Regions from separate parts of the Homo sapiens genome. Here region 1 is linked to region 2. Evidence: fine-mapped expression QTL. A gene starts in region 2. The other region holds a variant in brackets. All regions are shown on one strand. Distances are between the middles of the regions.

What was found. PIP is the estimated chance that this variant, and not a neighbour inherited with it, causes the effect.
Region 1: its variant is fine-mapped to the expression of FBP2 in lung (GTEx, PIP 0.94).

What each region holds. Positions count from the first base shown.
Region 1 is chr9:94,616,791-94,622,169 of GRCh38, reverse strand. FBP1 (fructose-bisphosphatase 1) reads left to right here. Exons shown (of 7, transcript NM_000507.4): 2 at 1,679-1,841; 3 at 4,310-4,402. Among named protein-coding and RNA genes, the nearest start is that of FBP1, 20 kb to the left of the region's middle. The variant G/A (reference allele first, on the strand shown) is at 2,412.
Region 2 is chr9:94,590,733-94,596,111 of GRCh38, reverse strand. It overlaps FBP2 (fructose-bisphosphatase 2), which reads left to right and starts at 2,288. Exons shown (of 7, transcript NM_003837.4): 1 at 2,288-2,555. The coding sequence starts at 2,386. RefSeq lists an enhancer at 4,279-4,821.

The DNA.
Region 1 (5,379 bases), 26 kb before region 2:
TGGATTCTGGGAATTCTATAATTACTGACTTGCAGGTTGCTTAAAAATAGTGAAAACTCCAGGATCCCTGCAACTTCCATGCCCTAGGACTCCTGCCAGGGGCCCAGGGTGTCACCAAGAGAGCCCTGGCCTGGGAGTCATAGGCAGGGTCTCGCCTCCACCCTCTGCCTGGGAGTCATAGGCAGCGTCTCACTTCTACCCTCTGCCTGTGTGGAGAAGTCCACAGGAGTCTTGGGTCTGAGTTTTCTCCTCTATGAAATGAGGCAGAGGGGCCGGTTGATGCTTTGTTTCTTTTAGGGTCTTTTTAGTTATAAAGCCATAAACCCCTTGGCTTGGCTCGCAACTCAGGCTACCCCCGACCCAGGCTTCCTTGCTTGCTGGGTCTCTCTATTGATTCGTTTAACCCGTGTGTTTGGGGGCCAACACTGGTTCTTTCTGGGCAAAACCAAAAACACCCGCAAACTTTTTATGTAAAAAGCACTGAGACACATACTGCAATAAACAGATATCTACTATATCTGTAGTATTAAAAATATTTCATGGGGGAGTATGGTTGAGGAAAAAATGTTCTAAAAAGCTCCCTAGGGGAATCATAATGAAAACAAAGTTAAGAAACACTGATTTAACCACAAAAGTGTGCAGGGCACCATGACAGGTTCGAGGTGAAGAGGCAGATGATAGTATCTCCTCCTCTCTAGGGTCTGTCCAGACCTTCCTGCCTTGTTCTCCCAAGCTGATGTCCTCCTTCCTTTCTTCTAAAAATATATATATTTTTAGACGGAATCTTGCTCTGTCGCCCAGGCTGGAGTGCAGTGGTGCGATCTCGGCTCACTGCAAGCTCCACCTCCCGGGTTCACGCCATTCTCCTGCCTCAGCATCCTGAATAGCTGGGACTACAGGCGCCCGCCACCACACCCGGCTAATTTTTTGTATTTTTTTTTTTTTTTTTTTTTTTTGAGACGGAGTCTCGCTCTGTCGCCCAGGCTGGCATGCAGTGGCACGATCTCGGCTCACTGCAAGCTCCGCCTCCTGGGTTCACGCCATTCTCCTGCCTCAGCCTCCCAAGTAGCTGGGACTACAGGCACCCACCACCACACCCGGCTACTTTTTTGTATTTTTTAATAGAGACGGGGTTTCACCATGTTAGCCAGGATGGTCTCGATCCCCTGACCTCATGATCCACCCGCCTCAGCCTCCCAAAGTGCTGGGATTACAGGCGTGAGCCACCACGCCCGGCCCTTTTTTAAAAAAATTATTATTATACTTTAAGTTCTGGGATACACATGCAGAATGCGTAGGTTTGTTACATAGGTATAAACATGCCATGGTGGTTTGCTGCACCCATCAATCTGTCATCTACATTAGGTATTTCTCCTAATGCTCTCCCTCCCCTAGTCCCCAGCTCCCTGAGAGGCCCCAGTGTGTGATGTTCCCCTCCCTGTGTCTATGTGTTCTCATTGTTCAACTCCCATTTATGAGTGAGAACATGTGGTGTTTGGTTTTCTGTTCCTGTATTAGTTTGCTGAGAATGATGGATTCCAGCTTCATCCATGTCCCTGCAAAGGACATGAACTCTTTCTTCTAAATCTTACCGAACACTCACTTTTGGTGGGTTTATGGACTCATCTACATGTTCTGGTGGTCATGGCTTATTTTTTGTGGCTTTTGTTCCCTGTAGCTATGGCATTGCTGGTTCTACCAACGTGACAGGTGATCAAGTTAAGAAGCTGGACGTCCTCTCCAACGACCTGGTTATGAACATGTTAAAGTCATCCTTTGCCACGTGTGTTCTCGTGTCAGAAGAAGATAAACACGCCATCATAGTGGAACCGGAGAAAAGGGTGGGTCTGTACTTCCACCATTGAGGGTTTTAATGTAGCCGGTCTTCTTCCCAGCTTCATAATTGACTCCACTTGTTCAGCTGAGCTGGGTTTCTGGGAGTCCCTCTAGATCCCTGCTGTGGTCTTTTCATAGCTTCCACCTCACTGCTGCCATCTCTCGAATCCTCCCTGAGCCACTGTGCAGATGAGTGTTGTGGCTCACGCCGCCTTCTCCCCAGTGGACTCCCACAAACTCATCTCCATTTCTAACTTTTTATTGCCATGTTTAAGGCTCTTCAAACCCTGGCTTCTGTTGGTCACCTCTTGTACTACATCCCTATCCACCAAATTCCTGACCTTCACACTGACCCTCCTGTTGACCTAGACTGCTTGAAACTTCCATCCCTGATGCACGCATTGGAGTCCCTATTGGTCTGTCTCTGCTTCTTTTTTTTTTTTTTTTTTTTTTTTTTTTGAGACAGTGTTTTGCTCTTGTTGCCCAGTCTGGTGTACAGTGGTGTGATCTTGGCTCACTGCAACCTCCGCCTCCTGGGTTCAAGCGATTCTCCTGCCTCAGCCTCCTGAGTAGCT[G/A]GGATTACAGGTTCCCGCCACCACACCTGGCTAATTTTTGTATTTTTAGTGGAGATGAGGTTTCACCATGTTGGCCAGGCTGGCCTTGAACTCCTGACCTCAAGTGACCCGCCCACCTTGGCCTCCCAAAGTGCTGGGATTACAGGTGTGAGCCACCACACCTGGCGTTATCTCTGCTTTTTGAGAGCAGAAAATGAATCTTATTTGTCTCTGTGTCCCAGTGTCTAGTGCAATGCCTGGCACATTGGAGGGCCTCAACAACAAATGACTGTTGAAAAAGATTGTTAAATGAAAGAGTATTCCCAGCTTTTATAAAACAACAATTGTAATTAGAAAAAAAAACTTCTGAGATTAGAAGTGCAGTTATATGGGCTTACTATCTTTCCCAGTTTGAGAGGAACTGGGAACATGAAGGAGTAGAATTAGGAAAAAACAATGAGAAGATGAAGAGGCTGCCTGTCCTCACCCTATTAAGAGGGCAGGAGCCACATCTGATGAAGTTGTTTTTCATCATTCCTAAAATAGCCGTACATGCCAGACTTGAAGTTCATGTTTTTCTCAGCTGGGCCTTTCAAGGTCTTTGGCAGCTTTAGGCGTATGGCTTAGATTTGTTGTTTAATATTCTCCATCACTCACGCCGGACTTCTCTTGTCTATCATGGGCCTTCATGATAGGCAGCTTCCTGTGTTCCAGTTTCCAGTTCCTCCTGCATTAGTGAGGGTGGTCTGTGAAGAGCAAGAGGGCAGGGAATCATGTTAATCTGCTACAGACATTTAAAAACGACATTGTAAAGTGGCTAATTTGGAGATGGAAAACTCCCAGTGATGTGCTGGTAAACTGGGTCTCAAAGCAAACAAACAAGTCTCTGATATGTCCACTTGCCTCTGTCAATGGTGTGAATACTCTCCCATCGTTGATTTTAAGCTACCAATGTGATATCACTGAAGGCAGAGTTGGGAAGAGATGTGCACCGTTAGCTCCTGAGAGCCGATACCAGCCAGCTCCTGCACACCACTGAAAATCCCACTCAAAACAGGAATCTGCGGTATTCCCACTACCACTGAAAGTTATCTACTTTGGGAATTACGCTAGAAATTTGTTTTGTTTAGTTTTGTTTTTAGAGACAGGGCCTCATTCTGTCACCCAGACTGGAGTGCACAGTCATGGCTCACTGCAGCCTCGAACTCCTGGCTCAAGTGATACCTCCTGTCTCAGCCTCCTGAGTAGCTGGGACTACAGATGTGCAGCATCATGCCCAGCTAATTGAATTTTTTTTTTTTTTTTTTTTTTTTTTTTTTTTTTTACAGAAGGAGTCTCTCTATGCTGCCCAGGCTGGTCTCAAACTCCTGGGCTCAAGCAATCCTCCTGTCTTAGCCTCCCAAAGTGCTAGGATTAGGCATGAGCCACCGTGCCCAGCCAGGATATTTTTGAAAACTCTATGCACCCCAACCTCAAGGGGCATCTGTAAGACCTCCATGAGAAGTTTCTTATAGATCTCAACCCTAGCAAAGTCTCTGCTTCACCTAAGGAATTATTTTTTTCCTTACAAATAAAGGAAAATGAGTGACTAACCTTCTTTTTCCTTTGGCTGCCAGGAAACTCAATGCAAAATTATGATTTGATTATATCAACAATATAGGAAATCATGACTTATCTGTATTCCATTACCTTCATCTGCACCTCTTAAGTGGTATTTTCTCTGTTTAATGGTCTTGTGTGTATGTGTGTGTATCTGTGCATTCTGTATGCCATCTCATGCCTTCCATGACAGTACAAATAAATAAGACCCACATTTTTTGAACTTTCTTCTAAATTCCCATTCTTAGCCCCTAATGTATACTCCTTTAGTGTATCTTGCTATAACATTTTAAGGTTGTATTTCTTTTTTCTGTGCTCAGGGTAAATATGTGGTCTGTTTTGATCCCCTTGATGGATCTTCCAACATCGATTGCCTTGTGTCCGTTGGAACCATTTTTGGCATCTATAGAAAGGTAAAACGTGATATCTTAAGCACTTGGTTTGGGGACAGAAGTTAAGATTGAGCATCCAGTCCTATTTCACTGTGGCAGAGCAGCCGGAGTGGAGATCATGAAACTGTGAGACTGAAGTAGATTTGTATCTCAAGTTCTGAGCTTTTCAGCACTAATTGCATGACGAAGACCCACTAGATTGTTGAAAGAGAATATAGGGTAAAATATGGGTGGGAAGAGAAGGATATTTCACTCTTTTTACTATGTCTTACTTTTTATGATAGAAAATGAGATTTAAAAAAGAGGCAGTAGAGGGTAAGTATAGTGATGATACGATGTGAACTCAGAGTTGAGAGTGTAAGACAACAATAGAGACTATGTCAAAACTGTCCTTTAAGTCCCCTAGTCAATGGTCTATAAGCTATGAGCCCCGGGCTGAGTCCAGCCTGTGGCCTAATGTGTACAGCCTGTGAACAAAGAATAACCATTTTTACATTTTTAAATAGTTGAAAAAAACTAAAGAACAAAGTTTCGTGATCCATTTTAAGTTTTACTCTTCACGAATGAAGCTTTAATTGGCATTTGGTCACATTCATTTTTTCACATACTGCCTTTGGCTGATTCTCTGCTGCACTGTCAAAGTTTTGTAGTTATGATAGAGACTGTATGGCCCATAAAACTGAAAAATTTACTATCTGTCTGTCTGTAGAAACAGTTTACTGAGCTTTGCTCTAAGTCGTAGAAAGCACACAGCATAGGATGAGAATCCAGCCCTGCTCGGGTCTCCTAACACCTGACTCGGGCAGTCACCCCTCCTCCAGAGCTGCTTTTTCTGAGAGAGAGAGAGAGAGAGAAAGAGAGAGAGAGAGAGGAGAGAGAGGAGAGGGAGGAGGAGGAGGAGAGGGAGGAGAGGGAGAGGGAGAGGTGCTCAATTATACGAATAAGTGAAAAATAGAATGAAAACCCATCCACCCATCAGGAAACATGATAAAATCCAA
Region 2 (5,379 bases):
GTTGAAAGTTGAAATAGATTGAATGAAAATCACAAAAAGGGTATGGGATCCTGTATTTGTTCTATTAAGAGGTAGCATATTTCTTGGTAAGTGAAGATAGACCCCCCCACACCCCCGCGAAAAGAATTAGAACATTGTCACATAGCAGTTCCTCTTCTGGGGTTGTATCTTACTGAAGCACTTGCCCCAATATAAGGATGTTTGTTGCATTACTATTTGAGGAGCCAACTTACCTAAATTATCTGAATGTCCGCAAGCTGGAATGATCCAAGCCTCTGTGTGCTGACTTGGACATCTTCCCATAATATTTGCTTTCTGGAACTAAAAACATATATAAATAACATATATATATATTTGGGATCTTAAACCTGCATATTAAGATCTACTGGTAGATGTTAGTTTTATCTGAAAGTTTCCACATAAATTGTGAGCACCAATGCCCATCTCAACCATTTGGTTGCCCTCCTCAACCAGTTTGGTTGATCCAATGCCAGCGCCCAGCTCCCACTGCAGGCATCACCACACGACCCTGATCTGGCAGACGCTGTGCACAGGGACGTCTACGGGGGTGGGAGGATGGGTTCCAGGGAAACTGTTCTTTCTTAATAAAAAGGAACTGATGTGGTTGGAGCTGCCCTTGCTCCCCTCTTTGCATCTTCAACGTGGGCCAGATGTTCAGAACTGCAGTGACATTTTGTGCCCCCAGGATGCCAAGCAAGGGGCACAATCCAGCCGACCAAGGATGACAGAGACGAGACAGAGAGGGGTCCCAGTGGAACCAAGAACAGCTGAATGAACACCAGCCACCACCTCCTAGTGCACTCCTGGTCTATGAGGAAATAAACCCCCACGTGTAAATTGCTCTAGTTGTTCTATTTCTTGCAGCTGAACACATTCTAATCGACATAACTGTCAGGGGAAAAGACCTTCAGAGAAATGTGCATGTTGTACTGTTTTGTGAAATGAGATTATGTATGATTGCACAATAGTTGTGAGCACATTGAAAGACTGGAAGGGCGGCTGGGCGTGATGGCTCACGCCTGTAATCCCAGCACTTTGGGAGGCCGAGGCGGGCGGATCACGAGGTCAGGAAATCGAGACCATCCTGGCTAACACGGTGAAACCCCGTCTCTACTAAAAATACAAAAAATTAGCCAAGCGTCGTGGCAGGCGCCTGTAGTCCCAGCTACTCGGGAGGCTGAGGCAGGAGAATAGCGTGAACCTGGAAGGCGGAGCTTGCAGTGAGCCGAGATCACGCCACTGCACTCCAGCCTGGGCGACAGAGTGAGACTCCATCTCAAAAAAAAAAAAAAAAAAAAAAAAAAAAACTGGAAGGGCAATAATAGGTAACAAAGTACTGAGCACCTACTATACTAGGTACATCTCATTGCAGCCACTCTATAAGATGGATGCTTCACGGTTATGCTCATTTAAGAGTGAGACAACTGAGGTTCCAAGGGGTTTAATAACTTTCTCAAATCATGCAACCAACAGATAGCTAGCTTGGGACTCACAGCCAGGTCTGGCTGGCCCTAGAGAAAGTGCTTCCACCACCATATGCACCCCACCAGTGCCTACTGGCTGCACAGACCGCCACCAGCCCTAGCAGCAGTGATTTCTGGAGAGTGGGATGGGAGAATGGGCTGGTGGTGAGGAGGTTTGTCTTTATCCACTTCTTTAGTGTTTCCTTTTTAACAAGCAATTTTTGTTACAAAAGTGGACATCCAGAGATATTGACAAAATAACACTGGTGCCAGGAACTGTGCTAGGAATATAATAGTTTTCTTCCGGATCTGGATCTCTACTGTGGATATCCACTGGTCATACATGCCTACTGGAAATAAAAAGCATTCTTTCCTAACTTATTCCAAACCCTGGCTAAAGGAATTCTGGGGTTGCCATTATGTTACTATGTGACCTACGTCCCAGATAAGGAACCTGCGAATCTGCCACCTCCGCCCTCGGGAGAGCCAGGCCCTGCAGTCACTATATGTGAAGAATCCTTTGGAGCCTGGAATAAGAGGGTTTTATGCATCATTTTTTAATCAACTGGATTTCTCACCTCCCACCTGTGCCTAAATGGTGGCTTCTTGGTATCTTGAAAGGGGGTGCTCAGCAGGAGAAAGCAGCTCCATGTTTCTGGGCAGCCCGTCCTATTTACAGACTGCTGCGGCTCCCTGGCAGCTGCCACAGTCCCCGAGGCCAGAGGGAGTTCCTTGAGGGCCCCAGCAGTTGTTTGAGTCATGTGTTTTGGGCCCTTTTCCTTAGAGATCCTGGCAGGGCCAGCACAGATTTCTTATCGGCTTCCACACTGCGGAGCTGCAGCCCTCAGAAGTAAGCAAGGTTTCCTGCCGGGAGAAAAGGATTTGAAGCATTCCAGCCAAAATGACGGACAGAAGCCCCTTCGAAACCGACATGCTCACCCTGACCCGCTACGTTATGGAAAAGGGGCGTCAGGCCAAAGGGACTGGGGAGCTCACCCAGCTGCTGAACTCAATGCTGACGGCCATCAAAGCCATCTCCTCGGCTGTGCGCAAGGCCGGTCTGGCCCACCTGTGAGTCCTGGGGAGCAGGCATGGGGCACAGAGCACCCCAGGCCCAGGCAGGGGTGTGGGAGCTGCAGGTGCTTTGGCAAGAAACTGGGTCCAAAGCTTATTGGCCCTGTGTGCCCTAGATGGAAGCTGCATTTCAAGTTCCTATCATGTGTGCTTTGATAAAGGGGCCTTTGACTTGTTTTGAGAAAGGAACGAAAACATGCTATGAAGAAATACACATATAATTTTTCCAGTTATTATAATGATACCAAGTGCAGTGGCTTGTTGCATTAAAATATGTATTGTGTTATCATGACTTGTACTTGCACAGAGAGAGTCTCACTGGAACAAAGAAGTAGAGGGGTGACGTGAAATATCTCTTTATGCCTCTTGCAGACATGAGTGTTTTATTGTAATAAGCTTTGCAAATATGTTAGGAGCTGGAAATTATGTACGACATAGGAAGCTTGGTAGAGCCCCTTCCTGCATCTGCTCTCTCATCATCTAAAGGAGTGTTTTGCTGGCTACGTGTTTTATTTCTTCTCTGTGACTCTTTCTTTATCTTCACCTCCACTTGGTGTGCAGGAAGCCGGGAGGTGCTAGTCCTGGGAGGGGAGCGCAGAGGTTTCTTCCACAGGGTTCTCTTTGGTGCTTTATCCGAGCATAGATGAGGCCAGGTTCACATTACACTGCTGATGGTCACAGCCCAGTGTCCAGTTTAAGTCTGTAATAAAAAGAATCCGGTGGCCAGGCACGGTGGCTCCTGTCTGTAATCCTGGCACTTTGGGAGGCCAAGGTGGGTGGATCATGAGGTCAAGAGATCAAGACCATCCTGGCCAACATGTTGAAACCCTGTCTCTACTAAAAATACAAAAATTAGTTGGGTGTGGTGGCGGGCGCCTGTAGTCCCGGCTACTCGGGAGGCTGAGGCAGGAGAATCGCTTGAACCTGGGAGATGGAGGTTGCGGTGAGTCGAGATCGTACCACTGCACTCCAGCCTGGGTGACAGGACGAGATTCCATCTCAAAACATACAAACAAACAAACAAAACCCCAGCTTTCTTTGGGCTTCCCTTGTAGTAATTCCAGGGGAGGTCCTCTCAGGAGCTGAAGGAACACATATTTTGGGGATGAAAGAGACTCAAAATGAGGAGCTAACAAAGTCCAATCATTTAAAATATTTACTCTGAGCAATTAAGTGCTTTTAACACAAAAAGTGATAGCATTAGATTACAAGATGTAATTATCATTTGATCACCACAGACTGTATTTATTTAGGGGTGGTGACCCAGTAGCAGGACCCAGGTTAACGGTGCATTATCCTTGCTTTTTTCCTGTGGGTGGATGCTTCAGCTCTGTTTTTACCTCATTTGGCAATAACAGCCACGCTCTGCATTTAATCGCCTTCCAGAATGTGAGGGCAGGCGGTGCCCTGTTCTGCTCCTGTGGGTGACAGCCCTGCTGAGTGACGGTAGACAGGGACTTTGCCTCTCCCTGTGCGGACCCTGCTATCCTCAATGCGGTTGCCTGAGTCCATCTCAGGGTGATTCATCCACATAAATTGGGCTCCCCCTCTGTGCAGGGCTCTTGGCTAGGCAGTGGCTGCCATGGTAGGGGTCTTGCTTATCTGCTGCAAAACTCTGACTTTATGGCGGTTGAGCAAGGAGACAAAGTGGCCCTAGGAACTGGATAATTGAGGTGCTTATTAATTTGGCATTTCCTACCGTGTGATAATGGGCGTGATTTACTCTTGCTAGGACCTTAGATTCCCTTTGTGAAATGGAGAGTATAGTAGCATCCCTAACTCTTAGGGTTGTTGCAGAGTTAGCGAGCGCATGTGATGACGATTTCAACTGTGCCGGCCCCGTAAGACACGCACAGTGCCTGTCACTACCGCGGTTCCAAGCCCAGACCAGATTTGCCTGTGCCTGAGCCGTCAATGACCACTGGCGGCATTTGAGGAGCCTTTCAGCCCCCCACTGCACTGTGGGAGCCACTTTCTGGGCTGGCCAAGGCTGGAGCCCACTCCCTCAGCTTTCAGGGAGGTGTGGAGGGAGAGGTGCGAGCGGGAACTGGGGCTGCGTGCGGCGCTTGCGGGCCAGCTGGAGTTCCGGGTGGGCGTGGGCTTGGCGGGCCCGCACTCCGAGCAGCCAGCCAGCCCTGCTGGCCCCCGGCAATGGGGGACTTAGCACCCGGGCCAGTGGCTGCGGAGGGTGTACTGAGTCCCCCAGCAGTGCTGGCCCACTGGCGCTGCGCTCGATTTCTCGCTGGGCCTTAGGTGCCTTCCCGCGGGGCAGGGCTCGGGACCTGCAGCCCGCCATGCCTGAGCCTCCCATCCACTCCATGGGCTCCTGTGCGGCCCGAGCCTCCCCGACGAGCGCCACCCCCCGCTCCACAGCGCTCAGTCCCATCGACCACCCAAGGGCTGAGGAATGCGCGCGCACGGCGCAGGACTGGCAGGCAGCTCCACCTGCAGCCCCGGTGCGGGATCCACTAGGTGAAGCCAGCTGGGCTCCTGAGTCTGGTGGGGACGTGGAGAGTCTTTATATCTAGCTCAGGGATTGTAAATACACCAATCAGCACCCTGTGTTTAGCTCAAGGTTTGTGAGTGCACCAATCGACACTCTGTATCTAGCTGCTCTGGTGGGGCCTTGGAGAACCTGTGTGTGGAAACTCTGTATCTAACTAATCTGATGGGGACGTGGAGAACCTTTGTATGTAGCTCAGGGATTGTAAACGCACCAATCAGCGCCCTGACAAAACAGGCCACTCGGCTCTACCAATCAGCAGGATGTGGGTGGGCCAGATAAGAGAATAAAAGCAGGCTGCCTAAACCAGCATCGGCA